2 linked regions of the Homo sapiens genome follow. The protein of the gene in region 1 interacts with the protein of each later gene in a pairwise test. Each region holds a gene or a part of one and is shown in the gene's direction. Other genes may lie near its edges.

The links.
Region 2: the proteins of MAP4K5 (region 1) and ZNF440 interact in a two-hybrid assay, tested with the Homo sapiens proteins (one large-scale study listed by BioGRID and IntAct).

Annotation. Positions count from the first base shown.
Region 1 is NC_000014.9:50,434,911-50,438,737, reverse strand, and holds part of MAP4K5 (mitogen-activated protein kinase kinase kinase kinase 5), read left to right. Parts: intron 1-643; coding exon 644-646; intron 647-729; coding exon 730-844; intron 845-1,203; coding exon 1,204-1,262; intron 1,263-3,672; coding exon 3,673-3,776; intron 3,777-3,827. UniProt on the Homo sapiens protein: May play a role in the response to environmental stress. Appears to act upstream of the JUN N-terminal pathway.
Region 2 is NC_000019.10:11,824,187-11,828,013, forward strand, and holds part of ZNF440 (zinc finger protein 440), read left to right. Parts: intron 1-3,380; exon of another isoform or gene 3,381-3,827. UniProt on the Homo sapiens protein: May be involved in transcriptional regulation.

The DNA of each region.
Region 1 (3,827 bases):
TACAGATAATTTTGTTGAGGATAAAACTGTGTATATGTGTGTGTATATATGTATGTTTTCTAATAATAAAAAGATAAATATTGTTTTGTATTGTTATATTATCATACCATATATAGTGAGAAATCAGATGATGTTTACCATATCCATCCCTCTTACTTAATACAGCCATATTTTTTATTATATGGAATTGTAGCCCTGTTATCCTTGTATCATGGCTTATAATATTGGTTGGTTTTACTTTTTTAAGTATTTCCATCTGTTATATTTAAGACTTCATTCACAATGATTTTTAATCCAAGGTAATTTGTTAAGTTATTGATAAATAGGTCTGTCCCAGAGAAATAATAATATAGCTTTATAGAATTTTCCATCTTGTATTAAAATAATCACATGTACATCATTGTAACTCAGTCCATAACATAAGATTTTGTACAACAATTTCTTTTTGTGTGCTGGCATCATTAAGGTTTAGTCTGCCCAGATCACCTATTAGTACCTAATTTATATATTCTGAATTAAAATTATCTGTTAATTTAAAAACATTTTATCTATTGTCTTTCAAAATAGTATTAACTGAGGGTTTTTTTGTGTGTGTTTTTCTATTTTGCTTGGCTTTTTGAACATTACTGGACTCTCGTTTTAGAAGGTAATTACGTTTTCTTTTTCTCGAAAATTGTATTTCTCTGCTGTAAATGATTCTCAAAAAGGTAACATGTTTTTCTTTTATAGGAAAAACCTTTCAGCTCTACTCTCACAATCTTATAGCTTTGTTTGAACATGCCAAAAAACCAGGATTAGCTGCCCATATTCAAACTCACAGGTTTCCAGACCGAATACTACCAAGGTACAAAATATCATTTTGATTCTACTGAATGAGGGGAATTAGTGTTTATTTTAAAAATAGCCCGTATTTCTTGCCCAGTAAAAAACTATGTCTTAATTTTCAAAGGTAGTTTAAACTAAAGTGTATTATATCTGGAAAAGCTGAACGTTTTCTGAACTTGACCATGAGAATCAACTGTGGAAGTTTTATAATACAGACTGTCAGGCCCTTCCTCAGTCCTATAAGATGAGATAGTGTGGAGTTAGGATCCAAGACAGTTTTTTAAGCTCCTTTCTGTCTGATTCTGATGCAACTGATTTACAAATCATTGTGTTGTAACCACTACTGTAGAGTGCATTTATATCGTCTTACGTTTTCAGAAAATTCGCTTTAACAACAAAGATTCCTGATACAAAAGGCTGCCACAAATGTTGCATAGGTGAGTAAATGGTATTTCTCAAACTGAATGGTTAGAACTTTTAACATCTTTATAATTATCTGAAGAGTCGTATGGAATCAAATAGGAAGGAGGGTAGGTTTTTAAAATTTGTGTTTAGTAAGAAGTTAAGCTGCCATTGAAGTACAAGAATATAGACAGACATGGCATAGAAATGCTTAGAGATAATAACCTTAGCGTTTTCTCAGAGCATAGTGTTCCTAGAGTTTTTTAACCATAGTCCCTGAGGCTGTATCTTTGCTAATATTCTAACTTTCATTTATTTAATATTTGCCATCTACCAGTTACCACCCATGTTTTATGAACATGTTTACAGGAGTTGAGCCAACTATGCAGTTAGAGGGAACAGTTCACACAAGAACACCCTCACTTATGATACCAATTGCAAGTTAGGGGATTCCCAAAACTACCCCCAGAATAAAAAAATTCACTAGAAGGTATCACGGAACTGGAAGCAGTTATACTCATAGTTACGATTACAATTTAGAACAGGGAAAAAATATAGATTTAAATCATTACCGTTTAGAACAGGGAAAGAATATAGATTAAAATCATTACCGTTTAGAACAGGGACAGAATATAGATTAAAATCAGCCAAGGGAAGAAGTACATAGGGCAGAGTCCAGGAAAAATACCAAACATGGAGCTTCTGTTGTCCTCTCCCTATGGTTAATGGATGGCGTTACTTTTCCAGCATTGGTATGTGGCAGAACACACAACCATTGCCAACCACTGCCAACCACAAGCTTATTCGAGCCTCGATGTCCAGAGTTTTTATTGGGGCTTCATCACAAAGGCATGATTGATTGACCACCTTGCTGATCTCAGTATGCAGCCCCACTAAAGGTCATCTGATGTTACATGACCCAAAGCCCCCACCCAAAATCACATTTTTTGTATTTCTGGCATGATTGATTGACCACCTTGCTGATCTCAGTATGCAGCCCCACTAAAGGTCATCTGATGTTACATGACCCAAAGCCCCCACCCAAAATCACATTTTTTGTATTTCTGGCATGACCAGCCCTCACATTAAGACTATCTAGTGCAGCCAGTCCCCACCCTGAATCATTATTGTTATATTATCCAGTGACCAGAGTCCCCCAGACAAAGACAGTCCTGTCAAGCATGACATTCCAAAGGCTTAGCAATTACCTCCCAGAAGCAGGACAGAGACCAGACCTCTTTTTTGGGTGAGGTTAAGTTCTTTACTACATAATTATCTCATTTAACCCTTAAACAACTCCATAATACTGATTGTGTCACTAGTAAGTAACAGAGCTTAGGAATCAGATTCAGGTTCAATGACTTCAGATCTTAAGTTCCTAACTTCCTATTTATTCTTTTGTTTGATCAATGAATTTACACATTGATCTTTGTGCCACATAATAGTTTCACAGCATAGTCCATACTGTAAAACAAAAATGTTTAACCACAAATGTGCTATAAATATTATTTTTCTAGGGAGAATCATGTCAATATCTATTATCAGATTCCCAAGATCTGTGATGCACAAAAGGCCTAGAAACTTGGAATCTAAGATAAAAACTCATAAATAATACTTTAGAGTTTAATGCAAATAACTATTCTTATAATCAATGATTATAATTATTAATGGAAATCAAATTTGGGAGAAGGAAAGAGCAATATGAATTTTTATAGATTTGAGTCAAGATTACATCATGATAAATTAATACATACAAGATGAATTATTTTCATCTTAAGTAGACATCTGTACACTGCTATACCAAAACGAGGTGCATTTTAGTTGCCTCCTAGACCTTGTCAGAACTCATTCTTTGAGTTTACTAAGAAACAACTTTTTGGGGAGGCCAAGATGGGAAGATCGGTTGAGTCCAGGAGTTCAAGACCAGCCTGGGAAACATAGTGAGACCCCATCTCTTAAAAAAAAAAAAAATTGAAAAATTAGCTGGGCATGGTGGCATACACCTATAGTCTCTGCTACTCAGGAGGCTGATGTGGGAGGATTGCTTGAGCCTGGGAGATTGAGGCTGCAGTTAGCTATTACTGTGCCACTGCATTCTAGCCTGAATGACAGAGCAAGACCCTGTCTCTTTAAAAAGAAAGAAGGAGGACGGGAGGGAGTGAGGAAGGGAAAAAAACACCTTTTTAGGTTGCATGTTAGGTTGTTATTGTGCTTGTCAAAAGTTCTTATGTTTAACAACCTAGTATATGCAAGTTGTTTAGAAGTAAACATATATAATTTAAAATTGAGATAAGAAAGTAAAACGGAAAAGGCAATGAAGCCAAAAGAAAAGACACAGTCTTTTTTTATTTTCTGCCCACTCTTGTCATCCTGGTTAACAGATACAATGAAAGTATTCAGTATTTTGAGTGTGTCTGGGTTTTTTGTTTGTTTATTTCTTTCCAGTCAGAAACCCTTACACGGGACATAAATACCTCTGTGGAGCTTTACAGTCTGGAATTGTTTTACTTCAGTGGTATGAGCCAATGCAGAAATTCATGTTGATAAAGGTATATATTATTTTGTTCACATTTTTTTCCTTTAGAAAACACTAGTGTATA
Region 2 (3,827 bases), on another chromosome or scaffold:
AAAAAAAAAAAAAAAGAAAAGAAAAGAAAAAAGAAAAAAATTAGTTTCAATAGGATATGCTGTCTTTTAAAAATTACATTCAGCAACTTGTTGCTGATAATTAAAATTCGCTGAGATTTATTTCTGTATAGAGTGTGCATTCTAGAAACTTACTAAAAATATTATGTATGCACAAAATACATAAAAGAATTGCACAATGAATTCAAATAATGATGGAACCAGTATTGGGAATAAGATAACTGCCTTACTTTTCCTTATACTTTCTCAACCTGGGTATGCATCCTCATCAGTGTGTTTTATTTTTGCATGTTTTTTATGCAAATGATAACCGATATGTGATATTTTATATCGGATTTTATTTTAACTCAGTTATGAACCTTATATGGAATGATAGTTAATTCACTTTCTTATTTAATGGATTTTATTATTTAGAACAGTGGTTGTTTCCCCAAAACATTGGGCAGATAATCCACAGAGTTCCAGCATTTTTATTCCAGGCTCATAGTTCCCCCCACCACCCTTTTTTTTTTTTTTTTTTTGAGATAGAATCTTGCTCTGTTGCCCAGGCTGGAGTGCAGTGGCATGATCTCGGCTCACTGCAACCTCCGCCTCCTGGGTTCTAGCAATCCTTCTGCCTCAGCCTCCCGAGTAGCTGGGAATACAGGCGCACACCACCACACCCAACTAATTTCTGTATTTTTTAGTAGAGAGAGGGTTTCACCATATTGACCAGGCTGGTCTCAAACTCCTGACCTTGTGATTCGCCCACCTCAGCCTCCCAAAGTGCTGGGATTACAGGCGTGAGCCACCGTACCCAGCATAGTTCCCCCTATTCTAAACATCTTGACTGGCCAGGTGCTGAGCCTTATACCTGTAATCCTACCACTTAGGTAGGCCAAAGCAGCAGGACAGCTTGGACTCGGGAGTTGGAGGCCAGCCTAGGCAACATAGCAAGACCCTGTTTCCAAAAATAAAAAAAATAAAAAATAATAAAAAATAAAAAATAAAAACTGTTTGAAACCAAAGAAACCATATTGACTTTGTGTAGTGTATCCTGCAACTGATGCAAGAATATATTACATGTGAACATGATGGAAATTGAAGAAGCCAATGTTATTATTACCTAAAGTCCATCTTTTACATTAGGCTTCACTCTTTGTGTTCTGTGGTTTAAGACAACTATGTGTCATGTATCCACCATCACAGTCTTATAGAGAAGTGTTTTACTGCCCTCAAAATCCCCTGTGCTCCTTCTAATCATACCTCTCCCCTCCCTCTTTTGCCACCCCTATTTATCCCTGGCAACAAATGATGATGTTCCTGCCTCTAGAGTTTTGCATTTTCCAGAATATCACATATTTGGAATGATACTGTAAGTGGCCATTTCAGACTTGCTTCTTTCATGTAAAAATATGCTTTGAAGGTCTCTAAATACCTTTGTTGCTTGACAACTCATTTATTTTTTATTTTTCTTTCTTTATCTAAAGATTTTTGTTTTGTGAGAGACAGGGTCTCAAACTCCCCAGCTCAGGTGATCCTCCCGCCTCAGCTTCCCAAAGTGCCTGAATTCCACTTGTGAGCCACCATGTCCGGCCACTGATTTTCTTTTTTTTTTCTTTTCTTTTCTTTTCTTTTTTTTTTTTTTTGAGACAGAGTTTCACTCTTCTTGCCCAGGCTGGAGTTCATTGGTGCAATCTTGGCTCACTGCACCCTCCACCTCCCAGGTTCAAGCAATTCTCCTGCCTCTGCCTCCCGAGTAGCTGGGATTACAGGCATGCACCATCACGCCCGGCTGATTTTGTATTTTTAGTAGAGACGGGGTTTCTCCATGTTGAGGCTGGTCTCGAACTCCTGACCTCAGGTGATCCACCCGCTCGGCCTCCCAAAGTGCTGGGATTACAGGCGTGAGCCACCGCACGCGGCCAGGGCCACTCATTTTCTTTCATCACTGAATAACATTCTATTGTACGGATGTTACCATAGTTTGTTTCTTTATTCACCTGTTGAAAGGCTCATCTTGAGCCTGGTGTCACGCCTCATCCCTGAGTTCCCAGCACATGGGAGACTGAGATGAGATTGCTTAAGGCCAGAAGTTAGAGAACAGCCTGGTAGATACCGTGTGAGACCTTATCTATTTTTTTTTTTTAAGACTCACCTTGTTTGATTCTAGTTTTTGGCAGTTATGAGTAAGGCTGCTAAAAACGTTTGTGGGAGGACTTTCGTGTGGACATCAGTTTTTAGTTCATTTGAGTCAATATGTAGGAATGAGACTACTGAATCAGTAAGACCATGCCTATTTTCTTCAGAGCTCCGCAGACTGTCTTCCAAATTGGCTGTAGAATTTTCCATTCACATCCCTAGTGAAGGAGAGTTCACTGTCTCCAGCATTTGGAAGTGTCAGTGTTTTGGATTTTAGCTACTCCACCAGGTATTTGCTGGTGCTTCATTGTTGTTTTCCTTTTTTAATTTTTTTTCCTTTTTTTTTTTTTTTTGGAGACAGAGTTTCAAATCTTGTTGCCCGGACCGGAGTACAATGGTGCGATCTCAGCTCACTGCAGCCTCTGCCTCCCGGGTTTAAGCGATTCTCCTGACTCAGACTCCCGAATAGCTGGGATTACAGGTGTATGCTGCCACACATGGCCACTGTTTGTATTATTAGTAGAGACAGAGTTTCACTGTGTTGGCCAGGCTGGTCTCAAACTTTTGACCTCAGGTGATCAACCTGCCTCAGCTTCCCAAAGAGCTGGATTACAGGCATGAGCCACTGCGCCCGGGCTGTTTTCATTTGCTCTTTAATAACATGTAATGTAGAGCATCCTGTCATATGTTTGTTTGCCATAATTACATTCTTTAGCGGGAGGTATACTTGGAAAGATTGGGCTTTTTTTTTTTTTTGAGACTGAGTCTGGCTCTGTCACCCAGGCTGGAGGGCAGTGGCGTAATCTTGGCTCACTGCAACCTCTGTCTCCCGGGTTCCAGTGATTCTCCTGCCTCAGCCTCCTGAGTAACTGGGATTACAGGCTCATGCCACCAGGCCCGGCTAATTTTTGTATTTTTACTAGAGACGGGGTTTCACCATGTTAGTCAGGCTGGTCTCAAACTCCTGACCTCGGTGATCCACCCGTCTCTGCCTCCCAAAGTGCTGGGATTAAGGCATGAGCCACCGCACCCAGCGTTTTGCTTATTTTTTGATTGGTTGGTTTTTTTCTTATAGAATTTTAGGAGTTCTTCATACCTTTTGGGTACCAGTTCTTGATCAGATAGCTGTTCTGCAAATATTTTGTCCCAGTCTGCCGCCTGTCTTTTTATTCTGTTAACAGTCTTTTCCAAAACATTTTTGTTTTGAATGAAGTCCAATTTATTGATTTTCTCATTCACAGATCATGCTTTTTGTGTTGTGTGTGAAATCTTATTGCCAAATCAAGGTCGTCTTGGTTTTGACAAGTGTGAAATTGTGAGTTTTGCATTTTCCATATAAGTAAACGATTCATTAGGAAGTAGTTTTGTAAAAGGTGCAGTTCTGTGTCTAATTCATTTCTTTGCATTTGCTAATTCAGGTGTTTCAATACCATTTGTTTTGTGCCACCATGTCTAATTTTTTATTTTATTATGGAGACGGGTATCTCCTTATGTTGCCCAGGCTGGTCTCGAACTGCGGGGCTCAAATGATCTGTCCGCCTTGGCCTCCAGCTTGCATTTTTAATACACGTCTTTATAGTAGATTTTTCTGTGTTCCTAGTGCCTCTCTTGTCATCTTATGGAATCTTCTCTTATATATTTAGTTTATTGAGTGTTTCTAATCATCAGGAGATATTAACTTATTTATG